Linked DNA regions of Homo sapiens. The protein of the gene in region 3 purifies or fractionates together with the protein of the main gene of each other region. This does not show direct contact. Each region holds a gene or a part of one and is shown on either strand. Other genes may lie near its edges.

Evidence for each region.
Region 1: the proteins of ANP32B (region 3) and SERPINA5 purify together in Homo sapiens (co-immunoprecipitation; one study listed by IntAct). This does not show direct contact.
Region 2: the proteins of ANP32B (region 3) and ACTR3 fractionate together in Homo sapiens (co-fractionation; one large-scale study listed by BioGRID). This does not show direct contact.

Annotation. Positions count from the first base shown.
Region 1 is NC_000014.9:94,587,926-94,591,425, reverse strand, and holds part of SERPINA5 (plasma serine protease inhibitor preproprotein), read right to left. Parts: coding exon 3,445-3,500; intron 1,386-3,444; coding exon 1,115-1,385; intron 678-1,114; coding exon 530-677; intron 1-529. UniProt on the Homo sapiens protein: Heparin-dependent serine protease inhibitor acting in body fluids and secretions. Inactivates serine proteases by binding irreversibly to their serine activation site. Involved in the regulation of intravascular and extravascular proteolytic activities.
Region 2 is NC_000002.12:113,952,522-113,956,252, reverse strand, and holds part of ACTR3 (actin-related protein 3), read right to left. Parts: intron 631-3,731; coding exon 547-630; intron 1-546. UniProt on the Homo sapiens protein: ATP-binding component of the Arp2/3 complex, a multiprotein complex that mediates actin polymerization upon stimulation by nucleation-promoting factor (NPF).
Region 3 is NC_000009.12:97,993,145-97,996,875, forward strand, and holds part of ANP32B (acidic leucine-rich nuclear phosphoprotein 32 family member B), read left to right. Parts: intron 1-1,486; coding exon 1,487-1,636; intron 1,637-3,731. UniProt on the Homo sapiens protein: Multifunctional protein that is involved in the regulation of many processes including cell proliferation, apoptosis, cell cycle progression or transcription.

The DNA.
Region 1 (3,500 bases), on a different chromosome or scaffold from region 3:
AGAGTAGAATGGAATGGAATAGAATAGAATAGAGTGGAGTGGAGTGGAGGAGTGGAATGGAGTGGAGTGGAAGAGTGGAGTGGAGGAGTGGAATGGAGTGGAATGGAAGAGTGGAGTGGATGAGTGGAGTGGAGTGGAGGAGTGGAGTGGAGGAGTGGAGTGGAGGAGTGGAGTGGATGAGTGGAGTGGAGGAGTGGAGTGGAGGAGTGGAGTGGAGATGTGGAGTGGAGGAGTAGAGTGGAGTGGATGAGAGGAGTGGAGGAGTGGAATGGAGTGGAATGGAATAGAGTGAACTGGAGTGGAGTGGAGTGGAGTGGAACTGAATAGAGTGAACTGGAGTGGAGTGGAGTGGAATTGAATAAAGTGAACTGGAGTGGAGTGGAGTGGAATTGAATAGAGTGAACTGGAGTGGAGTGGAGTGGAGTGGAGTTGAGTGGAATGGAATGGAATGAAATGGGGTAGAGTAGAATAGAAAGAATAGAACAGAATAGACCTTGGGAAGCAGATGCATAGGAGCTTCTGAACCCACCTCAGACACCTGGATATTTGAGTGGTTGCTGATGCCGGACAGATCAGCATGGGAGGTGAAGACGTTACTGATCCCCAGACTGGGGAGGACTTTCTCCAGCTGATAGGAGCCCTCAATGGAGAATTTGGGAAGGTAAAGCTCGAGCTGCCTGGAAAGGGAAAAGGAGCTTTCTTAGACTGTTCTGGGGCATTGGCACACTGAGCCTCACCCCTTGGATTCATAATGCACTGGATTCTTAGTTTTGATGGTTTTAAAAAAGGACTCCTTAACCCAAGGAACAATGGTGGTTATGGCTCCTCTGGCCTCTTTTCTAGGATGAGCCTCCCCTTGCTCTGGACTTGGACGTGGGCTGCCCAGAGGTCTCTGCCCACTCTGGCACCACCCTAAGGAACCCAGTTTCCAGCTCTTGTCCCTCCAACTGGGCTAGGCCCCCAGGACTTGGATGTCACAGGATGCCTCTGGGCCTGGAGGCAGCTCCTTGGCTGGGTGAGTCCTTCCCACCAGTGCTGTGTGGCCCTGGTAGGGCGTGTGTGTCTCCCTGGGGCTGTGTGGGTTTAGGCTGGCCCTGGGGTAGTCTGAAAGTACCTCTTTTTGAACATCTTAAGCCACTTCCTCAGCGTTTTCTCACTCAGTCCATTCTCCACCTGCTGCATCTTTCCCTCACTGGGGAGAATGAACAAAGCCGTGGCATTGCCTTGGTAGGGGACCCCCACCACCCTGCAGGAGAGGTTCCGGTCCAGGAGGTAGTGATACTGATCCTCGCGGCTCATCATGGGTACCCGCACCACAGTCTCCGAGGTCACGTAGAAGTCTTGCTCTTGGGTGCCTTTGTGGTTGAAGCTTGTCTCCCACTTAGCTAAAGATGAAAAAAGGGAAAAATGAAAAAGAATTTTGTGTCAGAATTAGAAATTCTCAGCTGCAAATAAAAGGAGTGAAGACAGTAAAGATAGCCAGCGGAGACCATCTTTATGGCAGCCCCAGAGCAGTGACTGTTGAACCTCTTGAATATGAAGGCAAGTCTCTTTATAACATTGGGCACATTCTTGGACTTTTCGTGGGACTTTTCCTTCCACATTTGCAAAACAAGGAGGTTGGTTTTCACATCTTCAGAGGCCCTGGACCCCTGATGTTCTCTGATTCTCTAACGTTTTACTCAAGACCAAATCTCCAAGTGAAGAGGGTGAAAAATGTGGCTGGCTGTGAATGCTACCTGATATCTGGGTGAACTTCTCTGTTTGCACTTTCATTCCAATATTTTGATTTAAATTTTAGAAAGAAGTTAGTATGGATCCTGGAAATGAATGGTTTTTCCCATTGGGAAGTCTTCAATGACCCTTCTCTGACCTTCCTATGGGAACTTCTGAACAAAACGCTACAAGTGATTGTTTCCAACTTCTTTTTATTTTATTTTATTTCTTTTTTTCTTTTTTTTCTTTTTTTCTTCTTTTTGAGATGGAGTCTCGCTCTGTGACCCATGCTGGAGTGCAGTGGCGCAATTTTGGCTCACTACAGCCCCCACCTCCCAGGTTCAAGTGATTCTCCTGCCTCAGCCTCCCAAGTAGCTGGAATTACAGGCGCCCACCACCATGCCTGGCTAATTTCTGTATTTTTTAGTAGAGACGGGGTTTCACTATGTTGGCCAGGCTGATCTCGAACTCCTGACCTCAGGTGATCTGCCCATCTCGGCCTCCTAAAATGTTGGGATTATAGGCGTGAGCCACCATGCCTGGCCTGTTTCCAACTTCTTAATCGTTATCGAAGGAAGACCCCAGTCAATACCGTCCTTAGCTTATTTCCCAGCTGCCCTCAGCAATCTGGTGTAATGGGGACTGCCCTGCACCAGGGGATAGGAAATCTCAGAGTCCAAGTTCGACACTCACTGCTGTGGTCTCAATGTTTGTGTCCCCACATTGTTCATATGTTGAAACCTAACCCCCAAGGTGGTGGTATTAGGACAGGGGGCCTTTGGGAGTTGATTAGGTCATGGGGGTGGAGCTGTCATGAACAGGATCGGTGTCCTTACAAAAGAGACCACAGAGAGCTGCCTTCCTCCTTCCAGCAAGGATATACTAAGAAGGCACTCTCTATGAACCAAGGAATGGGCACTGCATCTGCCAGTGCCTTGATCCTGGACTTCTCAGCCTCCAGAACTATGAGAAATATATGTTTGTTGTTGCTAAGCCACCCAGTTTATGGTATTTTGTTATAGCCACCCAAATGGCCAAAGATACTCATGATCTGTGACCATAGGAAGGGGAGGTGTTAACAATTTACCTTCCTTCGCAACCCTTCCCACCCTCTCCTCTCCTCTCTTCTCCTCTCTATCCACTCTTGCTTTCCCCAGGGTCAGCAACTGGCAGGAGCTGCAGAGGCGAGCAGGAATGCTTACAAGGAGTGTCGGGGAGATAAGCAGAGGTCAGCTCTTGCTGAGGAGTCAGGAGGAGGCATTTCAGAGGAACAAGCATTTGTCTGAGGGAGTCTTGGCCTCTATGAGGGCAGAGGGGCCAAGATCTGAGGGATACGGGGGACTGGGAAATGCCCTTTAAGCCCTTCTGGGGTCTGTGTCCTGCCCTGAGTGGCTAAGGTGTTGGTGTCTTTGCCATGGTGGCCACAATGGGTTCATACTTCAGAGCCTGTAGAAAGCTGGGGCTTCAGATGTCCCCAGGGGCCCGAAGACAGCAACCAGCTCTTCCTCCGTGGAGGAAACAGCATCTCAGCCTCACTAATCCCATCCACAGCAAGAAGGCATTCATCTTACCTTCTCTGGCTGCTTGTTTACTTAATTTTTCTCAACAGGCACCCAAAAGAACTTAACGTACTCCCCGTCTTTTATGTATGTGAGGGAATTGGGTATTCTTTAGATAAAAGCAGCAGAAAAGCCAAAGAAAGTGCAGGTTTGGGCCCAAGGGCCTTACCTTTAAAGAAGATGTAATTCACCATGATCACGACCGCATTGCTATCGAGGTTCTTA
Region 2 (3,731 bases), on a different chromosome or scaffold from region 3:
CAAGTATTGATGGACTCTTCTATCTTAAATATATATATATAAATTTAAACATAAGCTTCAGCCAGGCGCAGCAGCTCACACCTGTAAACTCAGCGCTCTTTGGGAGGCTGAGGTGGAAGGATCACTTGAGCCCAAGAGTTTGAGACCAGCCTGGCCCAACATAGTAAGACCTCATCTCAATAAAAAATAATAATAATAATAAAGGCCAGGAGCAGTGGCTCACACCTGTAAACCCAACACTTTGCTTTGGGAGGCCAAGGTGGGCAGATCCCAAGGTCAGGAGTTCAAGAGTAACCTAGCCAACATGATGAAACCCAGTCTCTGCTAAAAATGCAAAATTAGCCAGGTGTGGTGACGCATGCCTGTAGTCCCAGCTACTTGGGAGGCTGAGGCAGGAGAATCACTTTAACCCAGGAGGTGGAGGTTGCAGTGAGCCAAGATCATGCCATTGCACTCCAGCCTGGGTGACAAGAGCGAAAGTCCACCTCAAAAATAAATAAAATAATAATGATAAAATAAAATAAAAGTAAGCTTCATCACACTCACCGTGGAAGCCAGCATTGATCCTCCAAACCAAACTGCATATCGCTGCATGTGGTGTGTAATGACTTGTACATCAATAGGTTTTGGCTAAAGAAAGACATAGTATGATCATCTTCATAGTAAATTCAAATAACAACTTCTGTGTCATTTAACCTTAAATGTACATATACAAAAATAATATCTGTACTAAATTCAGGTGGTATCTTACAAACCAGAAACAATTGAGATTGGCTGTCTCAGAGGAAAGGGGTTGGGAACACTGTGGAAGAGACAGGGAGGGAACAGAGCAGAATAAATGGAAGGGAAATAACAATGAGCACATGTTTTATACAGTTCTGACTTTAAGAATCTAAATGTTAGTGTTTTACATACTAAAAAATAACACCTTAAAAGAAGGGGAGGTTGGGGCAAAACAAAGTACAACAAAAACAAATTAAACTAATTGTACTTTTTTCAAACATAAGCACACTAAGGTGAGGAAAGGGACTAACACAAGCAACTTGTGAGCATAGTATTTTGAATCTTATAAGCCTTCAGGCTGAAGATAAAATATAAGCAAATATTGAATTCTAGTTTTGGGTCTATTTTTCACAGTGGTGTGGATTAACAATTCTGAAACTATCATATACATATTCCAGGATTAAGCAAAAACATAAACATATTATAGATAATAGGAGCCAGGTTTCTCACTGTCAGAGAAGGGCATTACAATATGGAAGGGCAGAAAACTAGAGTGAACCTTCTATAACTGGAGACGTCTGTAAAAATTCATGGTTTTAATTTATGTAGAGAATTAGATATAGATGTATAAACACACACACACCCCTAGCTCTAATCACTGAGAAGGCCTAGACTCAGTGATACCCCAACAGCAATGAGCACAAAGCTTGGTTTCTTAGTAACGTTCTCCACTAACAGGAATAAGACAAGGGTGTCTTGAAGAAAGAAAAGGAGAAAAAAAGGGCTGATTCCAGGGCCAGAAAAGAGAAAGTACAAGATCAGCCTGAAACACCTTGCTGTGCCGGGAAGTACAGAAGTAGGCAAAAAAAAAGATGTGGCTGCATCAAAAAAAAAAACCTAAGAGCCATTTGAATAACTCCCACTGGTCAAATCTGAAAAAAAAAAAAATGTGGGATTAAAATTAATGATGAGTGGTATTACTGATATTATGATATTACAGTGATATTAAAGATATAGACCACAAAATGAGAAATCAGGAGTTCATATAGATATTACTAAAAGAATAAATGAATGTGGGAGAAGGGAAAACTCTTGCTTATAGTAAAACAAGTCTTAAAAACATAGAAGGAATGACAGAAATTGCAAAACTCCATTTAGCAACTACCACAGTAATAACTGTTTTAGGGAAGAATCACAATGGATGCTAAAAACTAGTGACTGAAACTTAAAAGAGAAACAGGATAGTCTGAAAGTGTCTCCTCATTAGATTCTTATTAAATATAAAGGAAAACATAATAACTTTATAGTGAAAAAACCTGGCAGACACAACTTCAACCAAAAGCTCAAAATTCACACACAGGACAAATTCTATCATGTGTCTACTGATACAATGCACTAAAAATGATACAATATCAATTCTGTGGCATCACTGCCAAAAGTACATAATCTGAACCTACTCAAGCAGAAATATTAAACAAACCCAAGCTGAAGGATATGCTACAAAATAAATGGCTGTACTCTTCAAAAATGTCACATTCATTCATGAAAGACAAAAAACATTGAGTATGTAACAGACTGAAGCAACACAATAAGTAAATGAAACATGCAATCCTTGATTGGATCCTGGATAAGGGGGAAGAAGGTATTTTGTTTTCCTTTTGTTATAAGGGACATTAGTGAAACAACCGGTAAAATTAGAATCAGTTCTATAACTAGATAACACTGGATCAAGGTTAATTTCATGATTTTGATAATTGTAATATGTTCTTGATTTTAGAAATATACTAAAATGTTTGGGGATAATGAACCATCATATCTACAATTTAGTGTGTGTGTGTGTGTACACACACCTATTTATAGAAACAGAATGATATGGCTTTTTTCAAAACTGTTTGGTTGCCATTAAAAATTACAGACTGAAGGAAAATAAAGCCAGAGATAGATAGATAAAGGCATGCTATTAAGATCTATAAAAGTTACTAGCAAGTAAAACTAAGGTGAAGAAGGCAGAGTCCTCCAAAACACAAGGTTTTTCCTATACATGATGAGCATCCCAAGTCTGAAAATCCAAAATGCTCCAAGATCCAAAAACTTTTTGAGCACCAACATGATGTTCAAAGGAAATGCTCAGAATTTCAGATTTTTGGATTAAGGATGTTGAACCAGTATATAATGCAAATACTCCAAAATCCAGAAAAACTCAAAACCTGCAACACTTCTGGTATGAAGCAATTCAAAAAAGGGACACCCAATCTGTTTCTTTCAATATGTCGATACGGTACTGATCACTGGGTAAATTTATTTCTTATTTACAAGTGTAAAAAGAGCTTAAAAATGTTAAACAATCTCACTTTTTTAAAATACTATACTCAGAAACATACAGCATTGTTTTGTACTTATATATCTGTAATGAGTTATTAAAAACTAAACAGCTACTTTAATACATCCATAACCATACCATTAGGACAATCAACTTCAATCTTTTAAGTATTCTAACAAAAAAACCAGAACATGCACTATGTTCATTCACATAATCAATGTGGTTAGTAGGATTCTCAGTACAGAGAATTTATACTTGCAAAACCCAATGACTTCTTTTTTAGGTAGGAGGTAGGGTAGATAGATATGTGGGTAAGGGGAGTAGACGGATGGGCAAATGAATGGATGAATGGGGGTGGGCTGGTGGTTTGGTTGGTTGGGAAGGGGATGCAAAAGCAAACACAACATTTTAAAAGTCTATTGAGTAGACTTCCTGAAGTGTGAAGTCATGACATTATAGGGACAGAGTTCAATATTTTGCCTTCCACCCAAAACATATACTTTTTACTGCATTCCTAGGGATAGGTTTACTCAAGATAATCAAAATATAGGCACTGACAACAGTCAGCCATCATGCAATTTCTCAACAATCAGCAAACCCTAGAGTGCTGTGCTTTACTTTTAAGTAATTCTGAATGATTATGGAAGTCTCAGATAAAGTCCTCATTCTTGGTAATCTTCCAAGCAGA
Region 3 (3,731 bases):
GAGTAAAAAGGATGCCTGGCTTCTGAAGAGGAAGTAGACAGGGTAGTGAGAAGCGGTTAGGCACTTACTATGTTGTGGGCATTGCTGACTTGAAATCTGTTTCCTTCTCTGTAAATGGGGGAAGGAGAGTGGTGGTAAAAAGAATAAATGATTAAGTACTCTATAATTGATAGCAATTACTAGAGTAGCATCATTGGATTTTGTATGAGAGGATGAGGACACTGTTAATAGCTCCTCTTCTCTTTTCAGACTGTCAGCATCTCCCTACTGTATACATGCTTGATTAATGCTATTAAATATGGTAGGTTCACTAAAAGAATGCCTTTGTTGGTGCAGTTAAAATGGTAATTTGCATCACTGTGAGTAGATCAAAGTGAGCTAAAAAGTTGCAAGTTTCAGGATGATCATAGAGCAAGAATGGCAATATGGATTATTGTGGTGGATCTGCATGTAGACTATTAAATAATCAATATTCAAAAGTTCAAATCATCAGATGTGATACTGTTTTTGAGATGGAGTCTCACTCTGTTGCCCAGGCTGGAGTGCAATGGCGAAATCTCGGCTAACTGCCACCTCCACCTCCCAGGTTCAAGCGACTCTCCAGCCTTAGCCTCCCAAGTAGCTGGGATTACAGGCACTCGCCATCTTGCCTGGCTAATTTTTGTATTTTTGTAGAGGGGGTTTCACCTTGTTGGCCAGACTGGTCTTGAACCCCAGACCTCAGGTGATCTGCCCACTTCAGCCTCCCAAAGTGCTGGGATTACAGGCGTCAGCCACTGCGCCCGGCCAGATGTGATACTCTTGGATGGACTTAAATTCTGAAAAAGAGACTGTGTAGCCTGAAAATGCAATTTAATTTATTATGTAGCAGTTCTCTGCTAGAAACATCTTTCTCAAGTGCAATCCAGATTGATCTTTGTTTTGAATTAAGGACTCTTGCATCCTGATTTTTTTTCCCAGTGTCAAGATAATCTTGGCAAAGATTACTAAAACCAGAGTTGGAAAGTGCGTTGGTGCAGAAACCTCTAGCCAGAATCTCTTAGTGGTCTTGATAGGAAACATAAAGCTTTCCTCTTTTCCAGGGGTCATCTTCTGGGCCTTAAGGTAGACCCAGCCTAAAGAGTGTCTTCATTCTGCATTTGCATTTAGATAAAAGCTGCCCTTTGGGGAACAGGCTGGAGAAAAGAAATAAGGGGAATACGCTTACTTCACTTATATCTTAAAAAGTATAGTTTCTGTTTCTGGAAAAACAAAGAGCGTAAGTGTTTATACCCATGGAATAATATTCCATCTTTGAACCTGTCAGTATATTGTTACTGAAGGCTTAATCAGTTTTTATCTTTTTATAACTATGATCTAGGTCTAAGTAAGAGGCTGCCTGTATATATGGGTGTTTTTGCAGGATATTTATGGTAGAAGTTTCTGCATTGTTGTTTGTTTTCAATGTGTTTTTGAGAGCTTATCCTTTTTTCTTTGTCATCCACAGGTTCGAGAACTTGTCTTGGACAATTGCAAATCAAATGATGGAAAAATTGAGGGCTTAACAGCTGAATTTGTGAACTTAGAGTTCCTCAGTTTAATAAATGTAGGCTTGATCTCAGTTTCAAATCTCCCCAAGCTGCCTAAATTGAAAAAGGTAAGTGCTTTTTCTTTAACAGTAAAAGAGAACGATCCTGGGAAGGGAAAATGTATGATTTTACCTGTAAGGAAGCACTTAGTGTAGCAGAAAGCACATGGCCTTTGGAACTGGGCAGATATGGGATTGAATTCTAGCCCTAGCATTTCCTTGATGGGCAAACTTCTGCAGGTTACTTAATCTCTCTAAGGCCCAATTTCCTCACCTGTAAACTGGTGGTATTACTTGACCTTGCAGAATTGCTGTGAAGTTTGGAAATAATGCATGTTGGGTGCTCAATAAGTAGTAGTTAGGAAGAATAATTACTGTGTTGAGTAATTTATTTGTTAATTGTTATAAAAACAATTCTCTATCCTTTCGGAAAAAGGGACCAAATGCAACATAAAAATGTTTTCTCTTGTCACTGCACATTTAACTGTCACAGAGTCCCAGAATGTCAGAACTGGAAGAAACTTTGCTCCTCTAACCCAACCCCTTATTTTATAGGCACAGCAATAGTCCCAGGAAAGTGTAGTAATTTGCCTAAAGCCACCCACAGAAGTGGTTAGTACTAGAGCCAAAACTAGAACCCGTATCTCCTAACCCCATACCCTTCCCATTATATAGGAAAAGATATGTGGTTATATAAGTCTTGCAGAATTCTCTGCCATTTCAATATTCGCTTTACTAGGAAAGTTAAGTTGTACCTTTATTTAAACTAAGGCACACGTAGAAGGAAACTAATCAAACTTGGGCAAAGGTAGGTTGTGCCTAGAGCTTGCTTGAGTTCTGAGTGGGACAGTTAGTTTTTTGGTATTGGGGTTTGTTTGTTTGTTTGTGGTTTTACAGCAGGTGGAGTGGGTTAAGTATAATACATGAGGCCAGTCATGGTGGCTCACGTCTGTAATCCCAACACTTTGGGAGGCCAAGGTGGGAGGATCACGTGAGGTCAGGAGTTCGAGACCAGCCTGGCCAACATGGCAAAACCCCATCTCTACTAAAAATACAAAAAAATCAGCTGGGCACGGTGGCACGCACCTGTAGTCCCAGCTAGTCCGGAGGCTGAGGCACAAGAATTGCTTGAACCCAGGCGGTGGCTGAGGTTGTAGTGAGCCAAAATCACACCGCTGCATTCCAGCCTGGGCGACAGAGCAAGACTCTGTCTCGATTTAAAAAAAAAAAAAAAAAAAAAGTATAATACATGAATTAAAAACTGGAAGTATTTTTTGTTTTGCTTTCTTTATTTGCCTTGTTTAGGTAATATTAAATGCTCAAGCAGTCTTCGTGAGTTTCAGGTGACCGTTTCTGATGAGAAAGAAATTTCCCCTTCTAAGTATACTAGAGGTTCAAGTATAATTCTTTTATATTTGCATGGGTTATCAGTGACATTGGAAGCTCTGATTAGCCCAGTTAAACATAGTATAGCTTTTTAGCATCTATTTACATAAACTTGATGCTAGCAGATCCTTAGTGTGTGTTTTGTGTTGTTTTCCTAGCATTCTGATTTATTTTCCCAAATTACTGTTGGTCTCTGTACTCTCAGACTTATTCAGAAATTCAGCCTATCAGTGACCGTTTTTATAGGGACTTTAATAAACCTTTCAGAATTCTGAATAGAGCTTGTTTGAGTTCTGAGAAGGACAGGGTTTTTGTTTTTGTTGGTTTTGGGTGGGAGGGCACGTTAAGTACACAAATTAAAAACTTTTAACATTTAAAACATTAATCACTTCCCTTATAGGGCTAATGAGAGGGAATCATACTTAAAGGCAGGTTGAGTGTACTCATGATTGATAAGAACTTTATTTTCTTCCTATTCCAGAACACAAATTGGTTTTGTTTTGTTTTGTTTTTGAGATGGAGTTTAACTCTTGTTGCCCAGGTTGGAGTGCAGTGGTGCCATCTCGGCTCACTGCAACCTCCGCCTCCCAGGTTCAAGCGATTCTCCTGCCACAGCCTCCTGAGTAGCTGGGATTACAGACATGCACCACCACGCCTGGCTACTTTTTGTATTTTTTTTTTTGTAGAGATGGGGGTTTCACCATATTGGTCAGGCTGGTTTCGAACTCCTGACCTCAGGTGATCAGCCCACCTCGGCCTCTCAAAGTACTGGGATTAC